Homo sapiens: one gene and its partners. The protein of the gene in region 1 purifies or fractionates together with the protein of each later gene. This does not show direct contact. Each region holds a gene or a part of one and is shown in the gene's direction. Other genes may lie near its edges.

Region 1 (7,029 bases):
TAATGTTCTGAGACTGATAACGGAGCCAGGAGTGCTCTGTCCAGATCAGGCCAAACAAGCTAGAAGGGCTGGCCGGAACCCGGGGTGGTGGTGAGAAGGAGGCACAGTGGGGCCCTGTAAACCCAGTCAGCGTCAGGGAGGCTGCCCCCAGGAATCATGGAGACTCTAGCAAGGGTGAGCAACAAAGGCGTTTTGGGCACACACCGAACAAAAGAAATGTGGGGTACCTGGAGTACCTTCTTCATGCCAGCATGGTGCCGAGGGCTTTAAATGCATCCAGCCCCTGCCAACAACCCCATGGTCGGGGATGATCATTCCCTTTTTTTTTTTATTTTTTATATATTTTTTGAGACGGAGTCTCTCTCTGTCGCCCAGGCTGGAGTGCAGTGGTGCGGTCTTGGCTCACCACAATCTCCACCTCCCAGGTTCAAGTGATTCTCTTGCCTCAACCTCCGGAGTAGCTAGGATTACAGGTGTGTGCCACCATACCCGGCTAATTTTTTGTATTTTTAGTAGAGACGGGGTTTCACCATGTTGGCCAGGCTGGTTTTGAACTCCTAACCTTAAGTGATCCGCCCGCCTCAGCCTCCCAAAGTGCTGGGATCACAGGCGTGAGCCACCGCGCTGGCCTGATCATTCCCATTTTATAGATGAAGAATTTGAGGTTCAGAGAGGTCAAATGCCTTGCCTAAAGCTGCACAGCAAGGAAGTTATGGAGGTTGTGCCCGCCACACCTGCTGCTTTACACTGACAACTCGCTACATCTTCATGCTGAGATGCAGGCAGTGTTGTCCAGCCCATTGTATAGATAAGTGAGCTGAGGCTCGAGAAGAAAAATTACTTGCCCGGTCACCAGCTAGCAAGTGGTGGGACAAGGCATGGAACTCAAGTCCATGTGATTCCAATGCCACCTGTCTGTGGCTGGGCCTTCTTCTCAGTGGCTGGCTCCATAGTCCTCCGTGGTGGGAGGCACGAAGAGAGGGGGAATGGGGGCTCACAGAGAAGAGGGAACCCCGCTGGTATCCCCAACCCCTCCCATACACGCCATTAGTCGCTCTCACCCCAGCACAGTAGACAAAGGCAGCCCCATAATTGGGAGTGAGTATTTCATGCATCCCCCCCGATGTTTTATTGGGTGGAGAGATGCTTGGAGACCAAACGGATGGCGCATTCTGTTTATAAAGTGCGCGCAGTTTGTTTTATTTCCTGAGTTTTTGCAATCTAGATAACAGATGATACCCTGAGTGGCTGGCGCTGCCTCTGTAATGGCGGCACTGAGCCTTTGGAGAAGTATTAATAATAGATTGTGTTGATGAGTTTGGAGAAAGTAGCAATCGACCCCCTGCTGCCAAGGCATTAGCGCGGCTGTTCTGAGCACAGCCAGCACTGTGGCTTTGACTGCAAATGCAGGTCACCCGCCCTGCTGCCCCTTCCCCAGCCTAAGAAGGTTTCCTCTCCGGGAGTCACCCAAGGTGTGCTGACCCTGGCCTGGGACCCTGGGACCGTGGCGCTCCCACGCTAGCAGCGACACGGCCAGTGTCTGTCCACTCAGAGGCCGCAGAGGTCAGGCTGCAGACCTTAGTGTGGCCACTAGGTCAGGTGGAGTGTGGGGAGGGGACAGAGGGGCAGTAGGGGTTGGGGGAGGACCACCCTCCATGTCAGAGCACCGGGTTCTACAAACCCAGGCTCCTTCCTCAGCCCCTCGGGAGAGCTGGACAGCCAGCCAGATTCCTAGGGCCTCTGCCTAAAGCTGTCACTGACAGTTGGGTAGGTTGTGCCCTGAACAAGGGGATTCAGCCAGAGGGCCAAATTAGAGCCAAAATCCAGCCCACATTCCCCTTGCAGAGCCATGCCCTGCAGGCTGGTGGGGTCCAGCATGCCCAGAGCAGAGCCTGGCCTCAGCCTCAGCTCACCCCAGGCCTTTACTCACCTACTCTGTAAACACTCACGGAGGCCCCCTTGAGGATCAGATGGGGCCAGGTCCTGTCTCATGGAACCCTGGTAGAGGTGGTAGAGTTGGGCACCAACAGGGACATGCATTGTCATTCTGCTGTGATACCCGTGTACTGAGTTACATGCTCAGCATCCTCGAATCCTGACAACAGCCTTCAGGAAGGGCTTGACATCTCCATTTTACAGGAGTAAACTGAGGTGGGGGACGCTGAGGGGAGCATAGAGGAGGCTACCTCCCCCAGACTGGGGCATCAGAGAAGGCTTCCCAGAGGAGGTGGCATTGGAGTTGGGCATTGCAGGATGAGTAGGAGCCTGCTGGGTAGAATAGAGGTGGGTGGCAGGGGTTGCTGGGGGTGCCCCCTGCTGAGTGCTCTGGCCAGTGCCCAGGCAGCATGCAGAGCTCCAAGTGGCCCTGCCCACTTCGCCCCACCAGCTCGCCGTGGGCGGTTCTGACGGCAGCTCCAGGAAGGGAGGCAGGCGAGTGCCTCCCATTTATGGCCATTTCTGTTCCAGAACCGATTAGTAGAGAATTGCAGCTGTAATCTGTGCCCGTGATGGTGGGCCATAAAGAGGGATGGGATGTGCACAGCGCTCCCAAGGTGGCGCCCGCAGACATGGCCCGGGGACGCCGGGAATGAAAAATGGTTTTAATTCCCTCCCAGCAGCAATAATTTGATTCTTCATAAATTTTTCCATCAAAGTGTTGTTGAGCTGAGTTCCCACAGAGCAGGACACGTGACAGGGTGGGGGAGTGTCGGGAGGAGCGGTCAGCAGACACAGCAGAGGAGGGGCCGTGCTGCCCAGCCCTCCTGCTAGTGCTGACCAGGGCCCGGAGACCACCTCTCCCGGCCCTCGTTTGTCTGCAGAGATGATGGGAGATGGGAGATGGAATCACGTTGTCATGTGGAAGCTGGATTAGGCCCAGCCTGGGAGTTGCCTCCAGCATTTACTACCCATGCGACCCTGAGCAAGCAACTCTGCCTCTTAGCACCTCAATTTCCTCATCTCTAAAATGGGGTTAATGTTCATTCTTTTCTTGCAGGGTTGTTGCAAGGATTAAATGCGTCTCTGCATATAAGATGCTTAGAGCAGGGCTGGCACTCTATACGTGCTCAGTGAATATCTGTTCGTGATGGAGATGCGTAAGCTGAGACGGAGGGATGGGAAGGTGTTAGCCAAGCCAAAGGACAGAGAAAGATGGGTCGAAAGATGGCTGCCATGATAGTGCTCTGGAGAAACTGCAGGCTGTTCTTTGGGGCTGCAGCCTGGGGAAGCAGAGGGTAGAAAGGGAAGAGGCGGGATCATGAAGGGCCTTGAGTGCCAGCCTCAGGAGCTCGGATGGTCTCCTAAGGGCACTAGGGAGCCATGGAAGAGTCTGGAGCAGGGAAGCAGCTTGATCCGATTTGTATTTTAGAAAGATCCCCCTGGCTCCTGTGTGTGTGACGGTTCCTGTGTGGGCTGGGGTTTGAAGGATTGAAGGGGCCAGGAGCCCAGAGAGGGGACCAGGCAGTTGCTCGGGCAGGAGAGGAGGGGCCCAGGCTGGGCAGTGGGTTGGGCAGGGCTGGGAATTGCTTGGATGTGTTGGTGAGGGAGGATCAGAGGAGAGGCAGACCAGGGAGCTGAGGTAGAAAGGATCCTTTCCAGCCAGGGGCTGACCTGGCCCCCAAGGAAAGTTTGAGTGGACCCTCCACACTGCCCTCTTGTGGCCACCGTGTCTCTGAGCTGGAAGGGCCCTGAGCTGCCACGCCCGGGACAGGTGACTCTAGGCAGGATGCCAGCACCCACCCCAGGGCCACTGGGGGCCTGTAGGCAGAAGAATAGGGCTGCAGGGCCCTTCTGCTGTCTGACCTGGTGCCCAAGGAGGGCCTCTCCCTCCCACCTGGGCCTGAGGGTCAGGGTGGCAAGAGGGAGAGGCCCTCGGCAGGAGTGGCCTCTGGGAGGGACTTCTGAGCACCGCCAACACGCCCGCTTTGTGCATCCGCAGGCTCTTCGCGGCCAAGTGCAGCGGCTGCATGGAGAAGATCGCCCCCACCGAGTTCGTGATGCGGGCGCTGGAGTGCGTGTACCACCTGGGCTGCTTCTGCTGCTGCGTGTGTGAACGGCAGCTACGCAAGGGCGACGAATTCGTGCTCAAGGAGGGCCAGCTGCTGTGCAAGGGTGACTACGAGAAGGAGAAGGACCTGCTCAGCTCCGTGAGCCCCGACGAGTCCGACTCCGGTGAGGCCTGGCCTGAGCTGGGGGCAGGCCTCAGGGACGGGGGTTGCTGGGGTGTCCTGGAGGGGAGTCCCGGCTGGAGAAGCCACCTCCTGCTTCCAGGACCTGAGCTGCACACAGATGGTACATGCATATCCAGATGCACACGCGCACTGACGTGTCCACCTGTGTGCACATGATACGAACATGCATCCCCCCAGGCACACTACCCCTGAGACCTACGCATCCATACATATAAACATATGTGTGATCACATGTGTGCACACAAGCACATAAAATGCATGCAGGAATACCCCTACCCTGAGTATGGATACATGTACATGTATGTGGAGATATGTGTTCACATACCCGGGAATTCAAAAGCCACACCCAGGTCCACACACACAAGTGTACACACTTAAGCATACATACACATACACACATGACACAGCACACTTGTGCACTAAACACCGGTCCACATGGCTGCACATATATGTTTGTCCACATGCTCACATGTACTGTGGATTGTGCTTGTGTGCACACACACACCTCTTGTTCTCTGGCCCACCCCCCTTACCCTCTCTGCCTTGATGGCCCCCCACCAACCCGCAGCCCAGCTCCACAGGGGTCTTCACCAGCACCCAGTCCACAGGCTGGGGATGCCTGAGAGGCAGGGAGATGATGTGCCTTCCCCTTCTCAGCCCCCTGGAGCCTTCAGCAGTGAGAAGCAAACAGCCTCGAGCCAGCCTCTGTTTCCCAGCCGAAGGGAGGGGGCTGGGCCCTCTGTGCTGGAGGGAAAGACCCCATTTCCCAGGGTGAAGGACCCTCCCTCCTCTGCTCTAGCCCCCAAAAGGACGAGGCCAATTTGAAGGCCTCCTGGCAGACAGGGCAAGCCCAGCCAGGAGTGAGCCTTAAGGAGGGAAAGCCCAGGAGGTGGCTTTGGTCCTTGTTCTTCCTGGGAACAGTGGGGAAGGACTGGAGCAGGAGGCATGGAGAGGAGGTGTCCCGGTCTGCCAGGCCCCATGGGTAACCTGGAGCCCTCCGGCAACAGGATCTGCCACATGGGAAGGGTTTTCCATGGCCAGGGCCTGCGTGGAGGCAGTGAGCCCACCACCATCTGTCCCTACCCATCCCTGGGCAGGGCACTGCTGCAGCCAGCTCCATGGCTTCCAGCTGCCTGGACTCCTGAGGAAGAGCAGAGGCTGGCCAGCCCCAGCAGAGGGGGTCTCAGTGGGAGGAGATCACCCGCCTCATACTCCAAGAACAGGATTGAAGAAAGGAGACCAGCCTGGGGGGCAGCGGGAGGCCCAGTGGTGGCTGGGGAGGCTTGGCCATCCATCTGGGGCTGCTGGCATTTCTGAGACCCAAACCTGGGGCGGGGAAGTGCCATGTGTGCATGGTGGGTGTGGCTGTAGCACTGGGAGAATGCACATGCTTCCGCACGCTGTGTGTGTCTGTCCAGATGCATGCATGCCTGTACGTTCCTGCCCGTGAGCATGGGCCCATGTGTGTGAATACGCCTGTGAGTTGCACGCGTGAGGGCCTTTGTGAGCCCACGTGTATGTGGCAGCAGGTGAGTGTGCATCTTACGAGTGTGTGCGTGCATACGCTGTGGTCAGAAGCACTCTTGTGTGAATATCTGTGGTGTGTGTCTTTGCTTGCACACTTTCGTGTATGTCCACACAGCCATGTGCACAACCGTGCGTGCACCTGTCTGCCTGTTCCCCGAGTGGGCCTGCCTTCCTGAAAGTGTGTGCAGCCACATGTACGTGTGTGCATGCCTGTGCTGTGGTTGTCCGAGGCGCACCTGTGTGAGTTCCTGTGCAGGTGTGCCCTGCGGCCCAGGATGAGGGAGTGAGGCGTGTGTGCCGGGGAAGGGACTCGCAGGGTACAGCAGGCAGGAGACCAGGGCCCAGATGAGGTAGGGCCTGTGGGCCACGGGAGGGAAGGAGATCTTATCCTGGGCCACTGGGGAGCCACGGCAGGTGTCAACAGAGGGGACAGGCTCCCATCGGGCAGCAGGTTGCCGAAGGGGACAAGGCTGAGGCCTGGGCTGCCCCCGCCCCTTCATCACAGGCCGGGTTGTGTCCCCCACAGTGAAGAGCGAGGATGAAGATGGGGACATGAAGCCGGCCAAGGGGCAGGGCAGTCAGAGCAAGGGCAGCGGGGATGACGGGAAGGACCCGCGGAGGCCCAAGCGACCCCGGACCATCCTCACCACGCAGCAGCGAAGAGCCTTCAAGGCCTCCTTCGAGGTCTCGTCGAAGCCTTGCCGAAAGGTGAGGGGCGGCCGGGGGGCGGGGCTCAGGCTGATGCCCGCACACCCACTGCCTTTCTGGAGACCACCCCCTGCTCCTGCTGGGGGTAGGGACATCCCTCCATCCTCCATCTCTCCGCACATCCCATCATACCCCTAAACCCACCATCTCCCCGTTGCTGCCCCTGGAGGGCCTGACCTGTTCCCCTCTCTCTGAGCCAGGTCCGAGAGACACTGGCAGCTGAGACGGGCCTCAGTGTGCGCGTGGTCCAGGTCTGGTTTCAGAACCAAAGAGCAAAGGTAAGAGGCCACCCCCCATCCCCACTGGCCCCGGGTAGGGTGGGACTAGAGGGGGCAGCCAGAAGACTACGGTCCAGGGGGCGTGGGGCTGGCTGTGCCTGGGGGCGAGGGGCAGCACCGGCCTGAACTGCGCTCTCCCTGCAGATGAAGAAGCTGGCGCGGCGGCACCAGCAGCAGCAGGAGCAGCAGAACTCCCAGCGGCTGGGCCAGGGTGAGCCGGGGCCGGGGCAGGGCCTGGGCCAGGGTGAGCTGGGGCCGGGGCCAGGGGTGGGCCTAGGCCAGGGTGAGCTGGGGCAGAGGCTGGGGCTGGGTGAGCCTGGGCCAGG
Region 2 (7,029 bases), on another chromosome or scaffold:
TCTTCCCTCCTTGATTCTTTATTATATTGCTCTTAAGAAATATTGGAACAGACATTTAGTGTCAGGGGCCCTGTGAGGTTGTGTGGGGAACCGCCTTTCAGGAGTTCACAGTCTTGCTGGCAAGATGGTAGGTGTGCCCTGGCATGTCCTGAGATGCCCCATGGCTGTGGTCTAGGCAGTACGTGCCCTGGTGCCTCAGAGGCTTAGAGATCATTTTCGGCTCTTCTCGTCAGGGCAGATTTCATGAAGGATTTTGAGCTGAGATTTAAAATGAAATAGGACTGTAGTAAGTGGATTTCTGTGGCTGAGAAAGAAGAGGGCATTCTATCACCCAATACAGTGGCTCTAACCATGATGGTGGAAAGAGGTAATGGGAAAGGACCAGATTTAGAGAAATTAAAAGAAATTAGGAAATCAATAGAAAAAACTTCCTTCTTTCCATTACTATCTGATTGTTTTCTTCTTGGCCAGAGTATCGGTGTGCCTTGGGCATCAGAAGAGACTGTGTGTGTGTGTGTGTGTGTGTGTGTGTGTGTGTGTGTGCGCGCGCACACACACACACGCACAGAATAGATATCACATCCATGTAGCTGCCTGTTGTGAAAAGGATTCAGAACTCCAATATTGTAGAGGACTGAAGTGTCTGAGAGTTAAAGATCTAGAGTTCAGTGTCGGCTGTGTCTCATTTGCTTTGATTTTGGGGAAATGTGCTTTGCCTTTATAATCTTCGGTTATCTGCTATGTAAGTTTGGAACATTACTTCATGTTTTGTAAGGTGATGTAATTCAGTGCGTGCAAGTACTTTATGAACAAATAAAAGGTATAACTCTGATGCTCTCAGGAAGCAAGCATTTTGCTCTTTTCCTAAAACTGCATAGCTGACTTGGGAATGAGGCGGGGAGAGCTGGTCTCTCTTTTCTAACTCTTCTGGTAGGATGTGGTAAAGACTGAGCTCCTGGGCAATAGAACACTCTGCATGGAGGTTTGTGCCTACAAATCAAACAAAGAGATCAGCCAGAGAGAGCCTGCCTTTTTGCACACACCGTTGGGAGGCTACCTTGTGCCTTTCCCCAGACCACCTGCCTCTGCTTTCTGTCTTGTTCTTTATCTGTTTCTCTCTCTCAGCTCAGCTTTGGGCCCCTGGACTGTTGTCCAAATCTGAAGACCACCCTCCCTGTAGATCTGCCCTCCTCCCCTCCCAACCTGCCCCCACCTGTGGAAGTTTGAATCTGAGCAGAGGCATTCCCCCAGCATGAACCTGGACACTTGACTGTCCGCCCGCCTGGAGAACCAGTCCTTGGTGAAGAAAGAGTGCCCTCTAGTGGGCATTGGCTGGAGCTGCTCCGGACCCACGTCACTCAGCCAAGGACAAAACAACCCGCCACACGGCCCTCCCGCCAAGGATGATCTTGACTATGCCTTTGGGTTTGGTTTGTTTTTCTCCTTGTGTGAAGAAAAAGAAAGAAAGAACAGCAGGAGACAAGTGGTGAGAGCAGCTCCCACAATGCTGTGACAGTCCCTTTATCTTAGGACTTTTACCAAAGAATTAACCCCAGGGCAAGCGATGGCAGCAAGGTACATGTGACATCAGAAGCTTTTTAAAGGACTTGTGACAATTCCTGTATAAATCACCTACCTGTCTCAACTGGTCTCTTCCATAATTGGGTGGATTTGTGGGAAGGAAACTCTTTCTGTAAGAATGATTACCAAATGGGTTAAATATCTTCATGGGCGCAACCCCTCTGCAGATTGCATATCCACTGCAATCAATGACATTTTTCGGGTAGTGGACGCGTCCGGGCCTGCCTGGCCATTAAAACCCTATATGCATGAGGACAAACAAGGGATTTGGCCCTTTAAAACCTATTTCAGAAAAAAGCTGCTGGGGTGGGGAGGGAAGAGATGAGGGGGAGGGAGAGAGCGCAGGGCACCCATCAGGGAAGCAGGAACCTGATCATATGTGATGGTTGCTGGATTAGGTAACAGCTCCGCTGGTTGAAATTGGATCTTGGAGGATGAGTGTTAACATCTCTGGTGTCCTGGCGAAAGGTTCATTTGAGTCTTGCATGGTGCTGCAGAGATAAAAAGGAGCTTTTAAATAATCATTTTGTCTCCTACTCACCAGAGTACTGGCTTCCAGCAATAAATAGGTAGCATCAGTTCTGCTTAGACATATCACCCTTTTCATTTATTTATTTAATGTTGGTGTTTTTTTTTTTTTTTAACCGCCGAGCTGAACAGTTTGTGTATCAGTGAATCCCAACACCCATTCTTAATAGTGGTATATTTGGATTCTCCTTGCGCTGGCTACAAATATGAGCATGCAAGGTTGTTTATTGGTCCATCCCTGTCCCCTCCAAGCATTACAGACACAGCCCAAATCCACCAGAACTGAATTTTCTATGCAAAATAGTGCAAGATGGTTTTCTTTTAAGGTTTTCCCTTGTTCATATTGTTCCTTAAAAAAATTTTTTTTGGGTTTTTGCACAATCATTTTCTATTTTCATAATTTGAGTATAATTTAAAGGGTGTAATTTGGAAATGACTGTTGTTGGTTTTTCTACCCGCCGCCCTCCCCCCCCCGCCCTTTTCTTTTCATTCTTTTGTTTTCTTCAGAACTCTGATTGGGGACCTATTTATGTGTCTTGAACTCTAAGTGTAAATGCAAGCAATATTTATGCCGTGGTGCATTGTATCTATCTTATCAATTTCTAATTGGCCACATTTAGAAACTAAGTCTATTAACTCATAGTGAATTCAAATTTCTTTTTAGGGAGTATTTATTTGCAGGATTCACAAAATGATGTGAAAGCTAAGCGAAATACTAACACTTTCTTGCCCCAGCCAACCCACCACCACTGCGCCCAATTAAATGTATCCTTCATACCTGAAAGAAAAGAGGCAGTATGCTTTATGCTTTAAGCTTTGCAACCCTCCTGAAACTTCCATGGCGGGTAGGGGCTTGCAGTTTATCCTTTCAGTGTTCTTTGCCAGCCTTGACAATTTCCTTTCTTATTTTATTTAAAACCAGTTAGATTTGAAGGCCAAGAAATGTATTAATTAGGAGGTGTGTAGAGTTTGTGTGAAATTGTTTGTGCTTCCCATTGACTATTTTAAAAAGATGGTGTTTTAAAAAGATGGAGCAGAGGCATGAAACTGAGAGGGGTTGGAAAGAGGAAATATTCTCAGAGGTTAATATTAGGTATATGGGAAATATTCATAGTGATGTGTGCGTGATCACCTGTGTAGCTCCTGGAGGAGCGAGGATCAGAACTGTCTCTCTGCCTTGCCTCTCCCTTCTTTCATACCTCACTGAGTTTGGCTGGAGGAATAAGCTGATGGAATGAATGAGGCCGCTTGGGGTACCCATGTGATTGGAGGAGGTAGGATACTTGATGTCAGCTCAAGTAGGCAGTGCTTAACACTAGCCCTGGCAAGGCAAGTCCTGACCATTAATAGGACATCATTCTTTTTTGCTTTGCTGTTGTTGTTGAGACCAGAGGTTGTCCTAAAATCTCTCAGTGTTGGGCCGCATGCAGGACCAGTTGGGTGTGGAGTAGCCAGGTGGACCCACTTGAAGGCATTAACACCCAGCTGAAGGGTTACCAGCCTCAGCTTCGTGGGGAATGTTCCTGCCAGCCGTGGGGGCTTACGGCCTCTTCTGAAGGAAGTATATTGGACATGAGATTCAGTGAGCGAATGAGAGAGTAGAATTTTGCCCCAGCACAATGTTTTGAATAATCGAGCTAAAGTGAAACAACTATATTTATTAATGGCTCAGAGGCGATTCTTTTTTTTTTCTAATTTGTAAATGACCCATAAATTTCTTTGTGGATAAGGCTATTAAAATTTATCATATAAAGAGAAACAACCACATAGAGGTGAAGGAGAGGCTGCTGGGCGCTGCTGCCAGATGTTTGGATGCCCCGAGATTCTTTTCGGTGCCTTTAGGGCCTGGTATTCAGGGCATGGTTACAGCAGCCATCTACTTTCTTAAGGAAACCTTTGTTAGTGGCAATTTGTTCTTCAGAGTGCTTCGGAGATTTAAGTAAATAAATTTAAGAAACAATAACGTGACTAAATCCTTATTGTGCAAAGATCAGCCAAAGGAGCAGTTTCCCATTCAGTCTCCTGAGCCTACAAAGGAAGGATTTTATTGGAAAAAAAAGTCCACAAAATAAACCTCAATGACCTCCTAACCTTTTGCCGTCACCACTATGGCAATTTTGTTTTTGTGTAGCAGAATATTACATATTCAGGTTTGAAGAGAGAAGATCATGACGTGGTAGTGTTGTGGTTTGCGTCTAGGGTGCAGGCTTCCTTCTTTTCTCCTTCCCAGCTACCTGCTCTCCCTCCTCCCTCCCTCCTTTCCTTCCTCTCATCCTTTTTTACTTCACCACGGAGCCCAAGCTTCTGCCCTGCACCTTTTGTCCTCTTTGCTCTTTATGGCCACCACTGATCCACATGGCTCGCCATTCCATTTGATGGTCTCGTGTTTTGTGAGAGCCATACTGTAGTTTTCCTTTTGGCCTAGGAATTGGGATTTCCTTCTGAACAACGTTCAGGGTTGGTTCTTTTGCTGCCTGTTGGCAGCCAGGAGCATGTGGGCACAGCCAGCAGTTATGCTGGTATTATATGTGATGACGCTCAAACATCTAGACATACCCTCATTGAGCTCATCTTCACCTTCCCTGTTACAACCCGAAGCCCTGCTTTGCCAGGGCTGGGAGACACCTGGAACTGGCACTGTCCCCCTGGGGCTCACCAGATGCACTCTGCCATGAAAACAGCTCTTGACTGTGCTCTGGTGTGTGGATATCCACCAGGGACTTAGACCCTGCCACCTCCATCCCCAAAATGTCAACCAACACCGGACCCCTCTCCTCTGCCTTTAATCACTTCCCTCTTTCCCACCCTACCCACACATTCTTTTCAATTTCTTAAAAATTGAAAACACTTTTTATGTTCCCTCTTAACAAAGACTTGGCTGCTGACAACTGAACTGGATTTAGATGAGTGATTTATTTTATGGGAGGTTGTCTGAAGGGGTAGTAAAAAAGACTGTCTCGCTCTTCTGCTGATTTACTAAATCACTGGATCTCCTTCAGTCCAAATCACCACCAAGGGTCCTGGTGTTTTCATAAAGATCAGCCATCTCATTGATCTGAGACGCCATCCTACCAGAGCACTGGCTTCCCTGAAACCCTGGAGACAGCTTGTTAAAAGGACCTCACCCTTGTTTCCAACAGGACAGAGTCCTTATCACTCGGAACACATAGATCTCAATGTTTGGAGCTAAACGACCCTGCTCAAGGGCCAATTTGTCTTCTTGCTATGTTAGACCTCACTCTCTGCTAGTCCACAGGAAAGGTCTGAAGATTTCGTTCCACATGTACTGGATTTGTGTACTTCAGGTGATTTTGGAAATGAAAAATTTAGACTGATCAAGCATTGCAAAGAAAGGCAATGAGTGCACAACCACAGACTTATGGAAATTTAAAAGGAGAAATAAAGAGGGAAATGCTTTTCCTTAAATTGAAATTAGGTAGTATGGGGATGAAAGTAAAAAATATATTTTGTTATGATTACATTTTTCTAGTTGAAATTTTTTATTGTGGTAAAATATATATAAGATAGAATTTACCTTTTTGGGGGGTGGGGGTGTGGAGTCTTGCTCTGTTGCCCAGGCTGGAGTGCAATGAGTGGCGTGATCTCAGCTCACTGCAGCCTCCGCCTCCTGGGTTCAAGGGATTCCCCTGCCTCAGCCTCCCGAGTAGCTGGGACTACAGGCACGCACCACCACGCCTGGCTAATTTTTTGTATTTTAGTAGAGACGGGGTTTCACCATGTTTGCCAGGATGGTCTCGATCTCCTGACCTCGTGATCAACCCCCCACTCAGCCTCCCAAAGTGCCGAATTTACCATTTTAAACTATTTTTAAGTGTACAGTTGAGTATTATTTTGCAGCCATCTCAAAAACTCAGCTTCCCAAAGTGAAATTCTGCGCTCATTAAACAATAGCTCCCCACTCCTCCCCACAACTCATGGTACCCATTATTCTACTTTCTGCCTCTTATAAATTTGATTATTCGAGATTCCACATACAAGTGGAGTGTAATTTTGGAACAAAGCAAGTCCCTCCTTCATTTTCTCACCCTCTCAGTTTCTCTCTTTTTCCAGCCTTTCTTCTATTCCTCAAATGGCATCTTGCAAGTAACTTGGCAGCTTATGTAGCCAAAGAACACAAATGTGTTGTGTTTTTTATTTTCTTTCTTGGGTTACTATTAACGCTCCCTTCCCTGTCTTTTTCTGTAGTTTTGAGTATCCGAGGAGCCCAGGAGGAGGAACCCACAGACCCCCAGCTGATGCGGCTGGACAACATGCTGTTAGCGGAAGGCGTGGCGGGGCCTGAGAAGGGCGGAGGGTCGGCGGCAGCGGCGGCAGCGGCGGCGGCTTCTGGAGGGGCAGGTTCAGACAACTCAGTGGAGCATTCAGATTACAGAGCCAAACTCTCACAGATCAGACAAATCTACCATACGGAGCTGGAGAAATACGAGCAGGTAACCAGAACCACCTGGGGCTCGGCACCCAGGCCCTTTAGGAAAGGGTGGAGGAAGCACAACCCCGGGGCTTGCAGAGAGGAGCGGCTCACCTTTCCCAGGTGCTGGCATCCCTGTGCCCGGCATCCCCTGCCCAGCCACAGAGCCCTGGCCAAACTTGAGTCTGCCAAGTCCTGGTCTCAACTGTTAAAAACCTAGGCATTCAATGGAGGTAAAGGCATTAAAAAATGTGTGACGCTGTAAATGATTTCAAGGAAACATAAATCGTGCATAGAAGGAACACTCCATACCTGGACTCCAGAACGTGTGTCTGTGATGTGCAGGCCTGGCTCTCATCCGGGCGCTATAGGTGATCAGCAGAGTCACCAGCTAACCTGCAAGAAGGTGGGAGGTTTTCTCTGGCCCTTGTTTTTCCTTATTTATCAGGAGGCCTATACTTTTTCTGGGTGCTCATAGTATCCTATGGGAA
Region 3 (7,029 bases), 730 kb from region 1:
TTTTCAGCCTGATTTTGGGGGCCTGACTATTTATATACTAATCGGTATATAGCAGTTGGATATCTTTTATGAGCAGCGCTCCCTGCCGTTTTGGTATTACTGTGGCCAACTCTAAGAAAGCAGCGTTATTCCAAAAGAATGTGAGAGTTTTGCCAAAAGAGAAAATAACCCCCAAAACCATTATGCATGATCCATAGGATGTGAGGTTGCAGGCTAGGAATTGTGTGTCTCCCAAGGTATTGCCTTGGTGTCCAGCAGGTATTATTGGAATTTGATTACTTCTTCCTCTCTTCCCCTTCACCTCCATGTCCCTGCAATTTGTAGGTATCCAATTGGTTTGGCAACAAACGAATCAGGTACAAGAAGAACATTGGCAAGTTTCAGGAAGAAGCCAACCTCTATGCTGCAAAGACGGCCGTGACAGCTGCACACGCAGTAGCAGCAGCTGTGCAGAACAACCAGACCAATTCGCCCACCACACCAAATTCCGGTGCGTACTGGGGGCTCGCTCCCCAACTGGCCCAGGCAGCCTTATGCCACAATGCCCTGTCCCACAGGCCAGGAAACAAGAGCCATACTGAGGACAGAGTGGACTTAAAAAGGAAGATTTATGTTCAAATGCAGGCTTGTTCTTGAGATGGGTGAATGAGTGGAAGGTCAGAGCCTGTAAACCCACTCTTCACAGTGAATGCCACTCACTAGTAGATTATGGAAGTTTTACAATTAGTAGTGGCTTTCAGTTCAGTAATTAGGCAGAGTGCTATCGCTCATGACTATTTTAGCTATTTCTTTCCAGATACCACTTTAGGGTCAGTAGTGGTCTGTGGAGAGTGAAATAGCAGAAGTGGGAAATGCAGCAGTTGCTGTGTGTGAGGAAGCTGGAATGCTGGAGGGAAGTGCAGCAGTGCTTTCTGCCCAGCACCGCTGTCCTTTCTCTGCCTTTCAGCAGCACTGTCTGAGCGGGGCTGACGGCATGCTCAGCAGGTGGCTAGCTGTGAGGGTTATGGTGCTTAATACATGCATGCAAGATTCTTGGATCCTCGTCCGGTACATTTTGGCTGCATTTTATGTGACGTTTGTGAGGGGGTTAGAAATACTTTAAAATTTCAGGGAACTTGAATAACAATGAAAGATGTGCAGCTAGTCCAAACAGATGGACTTCAGTAGCAATTCCAGGGGCGTTTCTGAGAAGGTCTCTTAGCTATATCTTTAGAAGTTCAGAAAGTAGGGGGGTTTTTGTTTGTTTTGTCTTGTCTCCTCACCCCCCAGTTCTTTTTAATGGCACATAAAAACAGATGAAAGGAGAGGGAGGTATATGCATAGCGAAGAAAGAGCTCCTGGAAAAGTCTCTTCTCTGGGTGGCTGTCCACTGTGACAGCCATGTTGACAAGCTCGTGTAATGACTAAATCCTGGAGATGAGTGGAAACAAGGGGAAGGGTCCAGGCCAGCTGCTGGGTGTTTTGGTTTATTTTTTCTTTTTAATTTATTTTGATTTGTCTCTTTGTTTTTGCTTTTGTTTTTTAAGTTTGGGCTTCCCCACTGATGGGACTTCTCCTAGATGTGGAGTGACTCACAGGACCCAACTCTCTGGAGTTACTCTCCATCCTCTTAGATCTGGAAATGCTTTATGTTGTGCACAGCCTTTCCCTTCTGTACTTTTTCTCATCTCCCTGCCTCTAGGTCTTTGAGGATTATGTGTGTAGCTCTCTGTTATTCAGCTACTTAACTCTTTCCTTTCCAGGTTCTTCTGGTTCTTTTAACCTCCCAAATTCTGGGGACATGTTCATGAACATGCAGAGTCTGAATGGGGATTCTTACCAAGGGTCCCAAGTCGGAGCCAATGTGCAATCACAGGTAGGAGAAATGCCCCAGTGGGGCCTTTCTAGCAGGGTAGGGTTTGGGCTCAAAACTCCTTCCTCTGACCCCATGGAAGTGGTCTACACATCCATGCAGAACCTGTGCTGGGTGCTTCCAACCAGGACCCATCTGCCCCACCATTTAATTTAATGAGAAGTCAAGTGAACAGTGACTTGTGATGATTCAAACCTGATAAACTTTGTGAATGCATTCGGCTCTGGCTTGAGCTCATGGAGAGGGGTTGGGTGCATCTTACTTTTGTCACAAAATAGAACAGAAAAATTGAGTGTGCCAGTGTGTATATGGTTTAAGAACATGTTGCTGTTTCATTTCTCAAGTCAGAGTACAAAAACCTGAGTTCTTAAATTATAACTCTATAATTTCTACTCTTTTCTTGTCCTCTTATTTGAGAACAGAACTATTCATATAGTTTTTATACATCTAGATGTATGTGTATGAGACATAGAGAAAGTGAGAGAAAGAGAGTTGAGATAATTCCATATACACAATTCTAAGTAGGCTTTCACCCACAGCCACATCCATTTGGTTGCTGTAGATGGAAAGTTGCATTGCCATGAAGATGTTATTGTTTGGCTGGCATGAAAAACAAAGATTTGTGAGTTTAAATATGCAAAGAATGGTTGAAATTCTGCCAGTCACATTTGATTGATAAATTTGTCTTTCATTGAAGATGTTAAACCCTTGTGGCACACATAATTCAAATTATTTCCTTTTGTAAGTGATGACGTTTTAATAGATTTGGGATGATGAATTTTGTTTTGTCTCACTTCTAGGTGGATACCCTCCGTCATGTTATCAATCAGACGGGAGGCTACAGTGATGGCCTTGGAGGAAATTCACTGTACAGTCCACATAATTTAAATGTGAGTACTCTGGGGAGTCAGCTGTAGGAGAACAGTGTCAGGTAAACAGTGACTAATAAAGAAATTAATAGCCATTTGACCTGGCTTCTCATCTTCTTGGCAGGTAGGGAAGGCAGCGTCTTTGCTGCACTTTTATTTTAAGAACCTAAATGCTTGATGCCGTCTAGATACCCTTAGAAGTCCTCATAGATGCCCAGAAATGGCTGGTGTCCTGTCATCAGCAGGGACTTAAGCATCAGCCCATTAAGACGCCATTTCCTACCATCAGTGCTGTGCTCCAGGGAGACGGTAGAAAACAGGTCATTTATCTTAGAACCAGGCAGCGGGAAAAATTCCCAAACAGAACTCAGGTGAAGGTGGTAAGTTTGGAGAATCCCAGGCAGACCAGCAAACCAAGCTAAACAAATAATTGTGTTATTAAAAGCATCTTGCTGTATTGTCAATGTGGGATGCACAACATATTTGACAATTTTAATTATGGAGGAAATAATTTTAACTTTTGTAACTACTTCACTACAACTTTACCTTTCCCTCCACTGACATGGATGGAAAATGGCAAAACACACAGCTCTGGAAAAGGGGGAAGGGGGCAGGGGAGCAGGTCATCGTGGTGGTGCTGCGGGGTGTGGTGGATGGAGTCTGGGGTTCTAGACTTAGGAAGGAAATTAACTGCCCAGCTCACGGTAGTAGACTCAGGAAGAAAATGGGCAAAATTCTTCCTTTTTAGGGCCTTGGCTTGCTACGAGAGTAAATATTAATGATTTAAAAAGTGATTGAGGATGTTCAATTGTAAAGGGAAAAAAGGACCATTAAATACTCAAATCTTTTACATTTGAAATGTCAAATCTTTCTTTTTGGGCTTATAAATAACTCATAATAACCCACAACAAACCATATAAAAAGCCTTTTAGTTGCATTTCTCCTTTTTCATTTAAGTGTTTTGAAATGCTTCAGAGAATGTGCGATATCCTTATCAACATGATAAAATATGAAACTGTGATTGCCTGCAGCATTTTACAGACATGAATTCCATCTTCACTGATGAGGCTTGATAAGGCGCTGTTGTATAATACAGTGCATAATCTCAAACCACCAGAGTAAGGATTAATTTATTTTGAAAAAAAAGAATGCTTGCTGACAACCTCTCCTCCAGCTGCCATGCTGGGTAAAAATATTGTACATTTGTTGTTTATAAATTTGGATAAAAGAGGAATGATGTTTACTTCAGATGGAATATCTTTAGACTTGTATCTGTGTGAGAGTTTTTCTTTTCCTAAGTAGATTTTCATACCTGAGGGGGGAAACAGCTTACCTTTTAGAGAAGAGGATTTCTGAGAGTCCACCGAACACACATGGGCATGTCATTAGCCAACCTGGCAAAACAGAGGCTTTAAAACAATACCACCATAGCTTTTTTTTTTTTTTAAATACTGTTTCCTTTTGTTTTTCCTAACCTGAATTTGATATGCCTCAAGCCTGGAAAATCCTCTTCCCTTAGGGTCTGGTCATCTCTGTGGGGTTCTTAGGTCATAGAGGTAGAAAAGGTGCTTTGCATGCCAACTCTGCAGTGAATTAGAAGACAGGGAGTTCTCCAGGAACTGTGATCACAGAAGAAGAAACAATGGCTGCCACATGCTCATCTAGGAGCTGTATCTAGGCTGGGCAGGGAATCTAGACAAGAGTTCTCAGCAGCCTGGCAGCCCAGGCCTGAAAGAGGGCATTTTGGATGGACTTGCAGAGGAAGTTGCAAATAGATGTGAGGGAGGCAGGAGGCACCTTATGACCCACCCTGACATTGGTGTAGGAGGTCCGGGTCTGGGGGCAGCATGGCGGCAGAGGGTGGTTGGTGCTGCAGGCACGGGGAGCCTGCTCACCCTCACCTCCTCTCCAGAAAGGCCTGCCCCATCACTTCCACTCAGTGTTCCCCAACTCACGAGGCTGGCACCTCCCTCTTCCTGACTGACATAAAAATATGTAGCGACAAGCTGTCTGCCACAGCAGAAATCTGATCAGACATTGATTTCAGCAATTGCCACTATAGGCCAAGACATAAGGCAAATTTGTTTCTGAGTACGGTTATTGCTGCTGCAGGTCTGAGGCAGGAAGGGCCAGCAGCATGTGGAAGGTGGGAGCAACATCCCAAATAGGAGCCTCAGCCACAGATAATTGGAATACAGATTTTAACAGTGTGTGCTGCTCTGCGGCTCATGCATTTTCATTCTGGAAGATCCTATTTGGAGGGAAATTCTGGCCTTCACTTTCCAAGGGTTACAGTAGCTGGCTGTCAGGCGTGTATGGAAAAAGGGTGGGCAACTGCTTCTCTATGGAAATGATGATTAAGCCGGGGTGAAGTTTAGACTTCATGGAGCCCTGGGTTTCGCTGAGGCATTGCATTGAGCTTCTCCACTGCTCCCTTCTGAAGAGATTTCTTTTTGAGTCACTTTAGTTTTACCAGCAGATCAAAGGCCGAGCTCGATGCCAGCATGGGCCTCGCTGAAGCCCTTCTTCGGCGTGTTGATTTATTGCCAAGACTTTACTTGATGGGATGGATTTGTTTTACATGCATTTAATCCCACTTTAACACATGCTGCCAACTCCTGCCACAGTGGGTTTAGAAAATACATTTTGCTAATGCATCTCTGCTCTCATGTTGTCATCCGGGTGTTTTAAATTGGGGAGTAGAATTAATATGTAGACGTGCACCCGTTGAACTGTGTTTCTCCTTTCAGGCTAATGGAGGCTGGCAGGACGCAACAACTCCATCTTCTGTGACTTCTCCTACAGAAGGCCCAGGAAGTGTGCACTCGGATACCTCTAACTAATCTCTGGCCACACTTTTCCCTGAGCTACATGCCTTGATAAGTGCATTCAGAGCAATAGGAGGAAAAGGAAAGCGTTTTTGTAGCCCACCATCTACAGCTTTACTGTAAAACCTTGTCTTATTCGAGAACTTGGTAAATCTGTTTTTTAAGGAATCATAATCATTTGTATTTATACTTAAAAACACACAATGTTAAAAAAAATAAAGCACTTTATCCAATTAGGCCAAGATTTAACATTGTTGACAGTCCTGTAGCTATTTTATCATAATTTATTATCAATATTTTACATTAATGGTTTCACAGTTGCCAATTACTTGGCCTTAAGGGTAAAAAGTACAATATACACTAAACCTCAACCGTTAAAGCAGATGCAAAAATTCACCTCACCTAAATTGAACTTCTTGCATATTTCCATTACTGACTTGGATTGTCTTTCTTTCATATCACTAATGGAGTTGGAATAAAGAGCTGTTTGCCTATCCCTGTTAATGATGGTTGTGTTTAAGAATCTTCCTCGTCACGTTTGTGTTCAGATCTCTTATGTTATAATTAGATCAGAGACTGGTAGCATCGTTTCTCTCTCTGAAAGCACCAGTGCCCAGAGTCTGCTCGGTAATAAAATTATGGATCCAGATTGTTCTGAGAGACGAAGATACTTGCTGCTGATAGAGGTGAAAACGAGATTGATCCGTCTGGGGTTTTACGGTGTGCACTGGGTGCTGCACAGACTTGTCAAGGTTTGCTACGTCCTCTGGGCATCTGCAAAAGGCCCTGCTCTCTGGAGTGTTGTATATAGTGTAGCAAAAGAGTATTTATACATCCCACCAATCAAAACACAGCTTTATTACCTCATGCGAACTCATACAAACCAATAGAATTTCAACATGTTCTGTAGCTTAGAGTGCTCACTTACTACCTCTGAACAATACTCACGCTGTAGTTTGTCTCTTTCTTATCTTTTTGCATCTTGTAATTAACTCTTTGTTTCCCTTCATAAAATGTAATGTACATTGTAATCTTTTAAAAGAAAAATCAGGGTTGCACTTGCAACTTTTAAAAAACCGAGTGTGGAAACATTGGGTCTTAATTCAACACAGGATCGGTAAAACTGTTGTAAATACTGAGAAACATTTTGAATGTTCTTCATCTTATTACTAATCCATGCAAAAAAAAAAAAAAAAGCAGCGACTAATTGTGATGCATTCAGATTTCAGTATTCAGTACTGTATATTTCACCCTGTGTAATGGGGCCCCCTCTCCTTTCTCTCTTTTTGTATTGTATGCGATTCTGAAACTGATTGAGTCATGAAAATAATTTGTGGCGGTGATTCTAATGTATTAAAAACGTTTCGTGTTCCTTTCTAACTGGATTACACCCTGGATTGAAAAAGTCTTCCTCGTGGTAGTTATATGTAGTTTCAAACATGAATAAACTTTTTGCTTTCATGATTAAATTTTGATGCAG
Region 4 (7,995 bases), on another chromosome or scaffold:
AAGGATTTAATCAGACATAGGGGTAAAATGGGCCAGGCGTGGTGGCTCACGCCTGTAATCCCAACACTTTGGGAGGCCAAGGTGGCAGATTGCCCGAGCTCAGGAGTTCTGGACCAGCCTAGACAACATGTGAAACCCCGTCTCTACTAAAATACAAAAAAAAAAAAAAAAAATAGCTGGGCGTGCTGGTGTGCACCTGTAGTCCCAGCTACTCAGGAGGCTGAGGCATGAGAATTGCTTGAACCTGGGAGGCAGAGGTTGCACTGAGCCGAGCTCAAGCCACTGCACTCCATCCTAAGCGACAGAGCAAGACTGTGTCTTAAAAAAGAAAGAAAGAAAGAAAGAAAAAGACATGGGTGTAAAGTAGTTAATATTGTCCCTGGCACATGGCAAGGGCTCCATAAATGTTACTGATGATGTGGATGGTGATGATAGTAGTAGCCACACTCTAATTCTGAGGACTCCTCATAAAAACAGAGTCCCACCTTCCTGATCCCTGCTGGCCTCCACTCTGCTAGGCTTAGGCACTGAAAAAATGAACAAGTGGTGTGCTCTGGGCCCAAGGAGAAGGGGCTCTCAAAGACCAAAGATTTGCATCCTACACAGTGGCGAGAGTGGGGAGTCTTTCAGAACCAGAGGCAGCAGCAGTAGGATGAGGGTTCTCTCCTTACGATGGATGAGGGGAGCAGTAAGGTCCCCAGAGTCAACATGGGAGAGAAAGTGAGTAAATAAGTGTTGAGGGATGGGCTGGAAGCTTTCGATGACATTGCTCAGTGTCCCTTCATAACAGCCCCATGGGATGCTATTATGATTTCTGTCTTATGGATAAAGAAATGTATAAGTAACTCACCAAGGTCATGTAGCTGAGAAGAGCCTGGGCAGATTCCTAGTCAAGGCCTTCCTGACTGCAAAGCCACCCTCACAGTCCAGCCTGTCTGGGCTGAGCTGGGCTAAGGGTGCAGGGGTGGGCTCAGGAGTCCACCAGGTGGACTGTCTCTGGACAGATGTCTCTGGAATCTGTCTCTTCCTCTCCCACCCACTGCCCTAGTCTGGGCTATTATAGGAGTCTCCTTTCCGGCCTCTCTCGCCATCCTCCTCCTCCAATCTGAGCTCTCACTTCAGACAAAGAAACACAGTGGACCAGTCCTCTCCTGGTGTAGAACCCTCTTTTGCCCACAGGCCTGCTTCTCACATGAGCAGTGTCTGCCTAGGGGCATGCAGCAGAGGAGAAGGCTGCCTCCCTGTGGTGCCAATTATACTTTCAAGTTACGACAAGTCCATGCTACAGAGTGGGACGCAAAGTGTCCAGGGATTGTGCTCAGAGCAGGAGTTTGTGTGTGTTGGGGGGAAGAGAGGGGCAGAGAGGAGTATCGTTCCTCATCAGAAAGGTTTCAATGGCCACAAAGATGGAGATAAACTCAGAGATTTGTCCAGCAGACCCTGCTGCACCTGGCTTCTGATGGCTGTCCAGTTGTGTGTCCATGACACCTGGGGGTGCTCTATGCTCCAGCCAGAACTATCTCTAGCCATCTTCCTTATCAGAAGCAATTTATTGCCTCTCTGACCAGAATGTCTTTCCATCCCATTTTTGGCTTGGGAAGCTCCTATGTATTCCTTAAGGTCAATTCCAAGTACCCCTCCTCTGAGAAGCCCTCCCTGATCCCACCTCATGGCTGAATGTCACGTCCTTTCCCAACCCCCCAATCTGCAGTGTGTTCGCTCGGCACCTTGCACTTCCCTCCTCACAGCTTCTTACCACAGGGCACTGTGTCACCGCTTTCAAAGGCAGCCTCTCCAGGAGGCCGTGAGCTCATGAGGTTGGGGAGTTCATCATTAACTCTGCCTTCATTTGCTTATTCAACACACATTCAGAGCCCCTCCTGATGCCAGGCAAGGGGCTCTGGATGCAAGGACGATTCAGTGTGTCCTCAGAGGAGCCCATGATCTGAGGGAAGACAAACCATCCATTCATTTATTGATTGCTATATTAAAACAACACATAAACCAAAAAGCAAAACCCTGTGATAAGCCCCAACACCGGGCCAGGCCCTCTGCTCAGGGATGAGGATAGAGAAAAAAGCAAAACCTTTTCTTGCCCTCAAGGAGATCCTATTCTGGCTAAGGGAAATTGCTAAGTGCGTGGTGTGTCCCCAGAGCTGTGGGGCACCAAGGCAGGTGTGGAGTCCTCTTCTTGCTTTATTTCTTTGTGATAACCAATTAATAAATGAGGGAATGAATAGATTTTTTTCTGTGTGGGTTTTTTTGTTTTTGTTTTTATTGCAGGGGGTGGAGTGGTGCGTCATGGGGCTTTAACCATGAATAAGCTCTGTAAACTAAGTCATTCAATAAATTCTGATCAATTGATTGACTGAAATATCGCACAGGAAGTCACTAGCAGCAACAGGGCTAGATTCTGGGTTTCCACGACCTTGGGATCTCCACCACCCTGGACTCTCTCAATGGGGAGCAAATCTACTCTGTGACTGTCTTGATAGGACTCTGCAGCCTGGAGCTACAGAGCCTCCTGCAATCTCACAGTAAAATGCAGCATTCTTGGCCTGCCTCCCAAGGGGGTTGTGAGCATTAATTAGTTACCATTGGTAAAGTGCTCTGAAGATGTGGGGGTGTATAAACACGGCAAGTCATTAGGCCTCTCCACACCACTATGCTCTACAGCCTAGGGACTGCTAATTGAGAAATAATTAACACCTCAGGGTGCTGAGGACAGCTGCCTGGCTTTTCCAGGATCGGAAGGGATGTAACAACGTGCACAGGAACAGGGAGAAATTAAAGGCTACTTTGGATATGTAGATCCAAGAAATTCTGAAGTTTATTTGCCCCCTGCCCCCAAAGAGGAGGAGTGAGAAATATCAGTCCAGCGAAACCTCTGGGACTGCACTCCTTGGGGAAAGCCTCTACCACAGCTCTGGGCTATAAAGGCTGAGCAAGGCTCTTAGAGACAAAAGAGCTCAGGTCCACCCCAGCCCTGCCTGGCCTCCTAGCTGGTAGGCAAATGCAGTCGTGTGCTCCACCCAAGCTGTGTTTTCTTCAACTGTAAGACCAGGATAATAACATGGCATCTACCCCTGCCGCCTCCACCACTAGGTTGTCCAGTGCCTTTCCTCTAGGGCTGCAGATCTAACCCCGGTGCACATTAGAATTTCCTGGGGAACTATAAAATAATAATGTCTGCACAACCAGCATCTTGGGACAGAGGGTGGCAGTGGGTGCATATAATGACTCTAATGCAGTCAAGGTTGAGAATCACTGCTCTGGCCTGTGTGCCAAGCTCTGTGTGAGGAGCTGGGAGAAATAAAGATGTAAACCACACCACACCCCATGCTTCCCTCACACTGGCTCATCATTTCCTGAGCTGTGCCTTTGAATGTCCTGGTCCCTCTGCCTGAACATTGGCACTCCACTCCCACTGCCATTCTTGTCTGGGTAGACCCCATTCATCCTTCAGGTCCAGCTCAAAGGTAACCTCCTCAGTGAAGCCTTCTTTTCCCACGCTCCCGCAGGGGTTTGCTCAGCCCCTATCACACCACTGATCACACGGAGTTGTTCCTGGAAGATCCTGTCGTACTGAGAGCTTCTTGGGGCCAGTATCGGAATCACCAGTGTCTTGCATTGGGTCTGGTATGTTTTAGGCATTCAATAACTGTAGTTGTTATCAGGTTGAGTTATATAACATGCAGTTCCCACTTCAGGACATTTGCATTTCTTGTTTCCTGTGTCTGGAAATTTCTTCCCCTGCAAGGCTCTGTCTCTCACCCCCTTCTGGTCTTTGCTAAAAACGCCACCTACTTGATGAGGTTTTTCCTGATCCTCCTATTTTAAATTGCAAACACTTGGCTGGGCGCGGTGGCTCACACCTATAATCCCAACAGTTTGGGAGGCCGAGGTGGGTGTATCACCACCTGAGGTCAGGAGTTCAAGACTAGCCTAGCCAATATGGTGAAACCCCATCTCTACTAAAAATACAAAAAGTAGTCGGACGTGGTGGGCACCTGTAATCCCAGCTACTCGGGAGGTTGAGGCAGAAGAATTGCTTAAACCCGGGAGAAGGAGGTTGCAGTGAGCCGAGAACGCGCCATTGTACTCCAGCCTGGGCGACAAGAGCAAAACTCCGTCTCAAAAAAACAAAGAAAAAAATTGCAAACACTTAACTCCCCCACTCCATTCTCCTTCTCTAATTTTTTCTTTATAGCCCTTATCACCATCTGACTGACAGATTCTTTTAAATTTTGATATTTTGTTTGCCATGGATTTTTTGCATTTTGTTTTTTTAAAAAAACAATTGTATTAAAATACTGTTTATCTTGGTTACTGAGTTCTTTGCTCCCATTCCCTGCCCTGCTTAAATTTCGCTCTATTGGTTTATTGACTGTGTCCTCTCTAGAACACAAGCTACACTGAACGCAGTTAATTTTGTCTGTTTGGTTCACTTCACTGTCCCCAGTGTCTACAGCAGTGGCTTCTACGTGGTAGCAGCTCAAAAAATATTTTGTGAATGGAAGTTTGAATCTGTGTCTTAAAGACTGTCTTGGGCACTGTAATAAAGGCGTCTTTCTCAAACTGTTTCACAATTTTATACTATTTAAATGGAAAGCCCGTAAAAATCATAGGATAGATTAGAAACTACACTGCCCAGTGTGTCGTCATGGTTACACTGTCGCCAGTGGTTCTCCTATTGGGGGAGTGGGCGGGGCCTGGCAGGGGCAGGAAGAGCACCCTCAAGTCATCATAGAGTTATACCTCCCAAGTTCCTAGAAAGTACTTCCGGAACGGTGATTTACTCAAGGCTGCCCTGGCCAATCAACGATCTTGGGGAAAGCCGGGTACTCGCTCTTTGGCTACACTTCCGGAAAACCTCTCACGCGCGCCTAGCGTGGGGCGGGGCCAGAGCGCCCCTGCCCTCGGCCCCGCCTCCGTGAGCGCGGCTTTGCAATTGGCGAAAAGGGCAGGAGGCGGGGCTTAGGAGCGGGCTTGCTCGAGGCGCAAGCGCGCTGGCCCGGCACGGCGGTGGTCTTGCGGGAGGCGTGGGCTGGGATTGCGGTAGGTGAACGTGGGTGACTCCCAGACCTGAGGGACGGGCGCGGGCAGCGAAATGAAGCGAGCACGCGGTGTGGGCGCGGAGACCTAGGACCCTGGTGTCCGTTTTCCCACTTGCATCCCGTCCTTGAGTTGGGGCGGGCGAGAATCCCATAAACTTTTCGATACTCCTGGTCTCCGTGTCCTCCGTTGTAAAATGAGGGCAGCACTTCCTGGTCTCTCCCTCGGTCGTCGTGAGAGTCACACAGTTCTCGAAGTGCCAGCTCTGGAAAGGCCCTGGGACCACCTGCTGCCTGAGCCAGCCTTCCCGTTTTATGTTGGAGAAAACGGAGGTCCGGGGCGAAGTGAGTGGTCCAGGGTCACCGAGCGAGTGAAGGCCGAGCTTGTTCTTAGAACTAGGCCTAGGGTTCCATTGCTGTTTAATGTAGCACAGTTCGTGATGGAAACTGTAGGATTTGGAGGCGGGGACCTTGCCTTCCAGGCCCGACCCTGCGCTTATTTGCTGTGTGGCTTGACACAAGTGACTTTATATTTCAGAGCCTCCCTTTTCTGAGTTGGGCATAATAATAATAATAATAGCACTTTGTGAGACTTAATATTATGTATCAGGTACGGTTGTAAACGCTTTAGGTACAACTTTTCTGATTAGATTGGGGGGCAATGGTGAGTCAAAGAATCTTTAAAAAGGCCTGGGCTGGAAGGGCTGACAGTGTCCCGACAGAGTAGGTACTCAAAAAAATCGACTGAATGTCTCAGAGGCTGTTTGCCAGAGCCTGAAGTGTTGCATACGTTAGTTACTGTATTGCTCCTGAAAAACTGAGATAATTCTACTTATTCTCCTGTTTGTATAAGCTGAGGGGTCTGAGGACAGACATGCTAAACGTGGAGGAGAAGAGTTTAAAGCTCTCGTTTAAATTATCCAGATAATTATATCATTGCACCTGTTTGCTTTGCTCTTAATTTATTAACATATTTGATCAACAGATAATAATAGCCTAAATAGTAGGCATTATGCGAGACTCTGAAATTTAAAGATGTATAAAACTTCATAAACTTGTAATTTCATCAAGGAATAGAATGTTAAACATCGACACTGACCTCCCCTCCTGGCCCCCGTACACACCCCCAGAAAGAAAAAAAATTGTATGTGAAACACCATTCGCTTCCAATGCCTGGCACACAATAGTTCCTCAAAAATATTTTTGGAGATGATTCTAATACAGTATACTAAAAAGAGGTGTGTGCAGTGGAGCACAGAGGAGGTGACTTTCTCTGTTTAGAGGGGTTGGAGAAAGTTTCTTGGAGTAAGTGAACCTTGAATTCCAGTTGGAATTGCTGGGGGTTGGGGGGAGGTCAGTCTGTTTCAAGAATAATGAGCAACTTGGGGAATGCTAGGATAAGAAGCTGGAAGAGGTGTGTTGGGATCAAAATGTGAAGAGCTTTGGTGCCATTCTGAGAAAATTATGAGAGCCAGCCGTTAATGGATTGTAAACAGGGGAGTGATTGGGTCAGCTATCTTTTTAGCTGGAGACTAATACGGAGACTGGACTGACAGGGTTCAAGAATTACTCCATTCATTCATTGATAGAACATGTATTGAGCCTGGGCACAGTGGCTCACACCTATAATCCCAGCAATTTGGGAAGCTGAGGCAGGTGGATCGCATGAGGCCAGGAGTTCAAGACCAGCCTGGGCAACATAGCAAGACTCCATCTCTATTTTTTAAGAAAGAAAAAAAGGAACATGTTATTGAGTGTCCACTGTGTCCAGGCACTGTGCTGAATGCTGCAGATAAAACTTGGAATAAAATAGACATAGCTGTCGTCTTCATGGAGTTTAAGACATTAGTCATTGGTGGTACACAGCTAGACCCCTGCAGTGGTTCTCCCAGTGGGGTCCCTGGACCAGCAGCATCTGTGTCACCTGGGAACTTGTTAGAAATACAGGTTCTCTGCCCACACCCCAAACTTACTAAATGAGAAGCTCTGGAGATGGGCCTCTGCAATCACTGTTTTAACAAACCCAACCGGGCATGGTGGCTCACGCCTGTAATCCCAGCACTTTGGGAGGCCGTGGCGGGCTGATCACTTGAGGTCAAGGAGTTTGAGACCAGCCTGGCCAACATGGTGAAACTCTGTCTGTACTAAAAATATGAAAAATAGTTGGGCATGGTGGCACATGCCTGTAATTCCAGCTACTCAGGAGGCTGAGGCAAGAGAATCTCTTGAGGCTGGGGGTACGGAGGTTGCAGTGATCTGACATTGCACCACTGCACTCCAGCCTGGGTGATAGAGTGAACTCTGTCTCTAAAAAAAAAAAAAAAAAAACAAGCCCTCCAGCGATTCTGATGCTCAATTAGATTTCAGAACCACTGGGTAACTGTAATGTAGCAAGTGGTATTGAGGGGCTAACCTAATGTTGAGGCAGTAAGGGCCAGAAAGGAGGGGGTGGACTTAAGGGAAACCTTGAGACAGACTCATTTGCTTTAGGAGGAATCAAGGATGAGTTTCTGGCTGGAGCCACTGCCCTAAGTAAGGTTGGATCACAAGGAAGTTATAGAGCCAGGGGTGAATCCACATGTGCCTTGCCTCCATGGCCCGTACGTTCCTACAACACCACACTAGGGCTCTGTGGCAGTGCCTGACCACCTTTAAACATTTGTACAGTGCACAGGGGAAATGAATGAGGCTGCTTGAGGTTGGAGGGGACAAGCTGGAGGACCTGAGGCTGCTAGAGGTAACCAGCTGGGAGATCCCAGCTCCCTAGAGCTGAGGGGAATCAGCAACCCATACCCAGCATACTGCCGGGAGCTTTGTTGCATGGACTGTGCTGAAAAGTAGAGGTACTCACTAAATTTGGCAATACAAATAAAAAGTCTCAAAAGAATTTATAGCCTTTGATTCAGTAATTCCATTCTTCAACGCCTCTCCCAAATATATA

What was found.
Region 2: the proteins of LMX1B (region 1) and PBX1 purify together in Homo sapiens (affinity purification with mass spectrometry; 3 studies listed by BioGRID and IntAct, with this or other methods). This does not show direct contact.
Region 3: the proteins of LMX1B (region 1) and PBX3 purify together in Homo sapiens (affinity purification with mass spectrometry; 3 studies listed by BioGRID and IntAct, with this or other methods). This does not show direct contact.
Region 4: the proteins of LMX1B (region 1) and PARS2 purify together in Homo sapiens (affinity purification with mass spectrometry; 3 studies listed by BioGRID and IntAct, with this or other methods). This does not show direct contact.

The regions. Positions count from the first base shown.
Region 1 is NC_000009.12:126,686,899-126,693,927, forward strand, and holds part of LMX1B (LIM homeobox transcription factor 1-beta), read left to right. Parts: intron 1-3,937; coding exon 3,938-4,170; intron 4,171-6,243; coding exon 6,244-6,425; intron 6,426-6,625; coding exon 6,626-6,703; intron 6,704-6,847; coding exon 6,848-6,914; coding exon of another isoform or gene 6,915-6,947; intron 6,948-7,029. UniProt on the Homo sapiens protein: Transcription factor involved in the regulation of podocyte-expressed genes. Essential for the specification of dorsal limb fate at both the zeugopodal and autopodal levels.
Region 2 is NC_000001.11:164,786,179-164,793,207, forward strand, and holds part of PBX1 (pre-B-cell leukemia transcription factor 1), read left to right. Parts: intron 1-6,315; coding exon 6,316-6,560; intron 6,561-7,029. UniProt on the Homo sapiens protein: Transcription factor which binds the DNA sequence 5'-TGATTGAT-3' as part of a heterodimer with HOX proteins such as HOXA1, HOXA5, HOXB7 and HOXB8. Binds to the DNA sequence 5'-TGATTGAC-3' in complex with a nuclear factor which is not a class I HOX protein.
Region 3 is NC_000009.12:125,960,360-125,967,388, forward strand, and holds the end of PBX3 (pre-B-cell leukemia transcription factor 3), read left to right. Parts: intron 1-324; coding exon 325-490; intron 491-1,742; coding exon 1,743-1,855; intron 1,856-2,652; coding exon 2,653-2,742; exon of another isoform or gene 2,743-2,816; intron 2,817-5,471; coding exon 5,472-5,564; 3' UTR 5,565-7,018; downstream 7,019-7,029. UniProt on the Homo sapiens protein: Transcriptional activator that binds the sequence 5'-ATCAATCAA-3'.
Region 4 is NC_000001.11:54,761,524-54,769,518, reverse strand, and holds the start of PARS2 (probable proline--tRNA ligase, mitochondrial precursor), read left to right. Parts: upstream 1-4,995; 5' UTR 4,996-5,058; intron 5,059-7,995. UniProt on the Homo sapiens protein: Mitochondrial aminoacyl-tRNA synthetase that catalyzes the specific attachment of the proline amino acid (aa) to the homologous transfer RNA (tRNA), further participating in protein synthesis.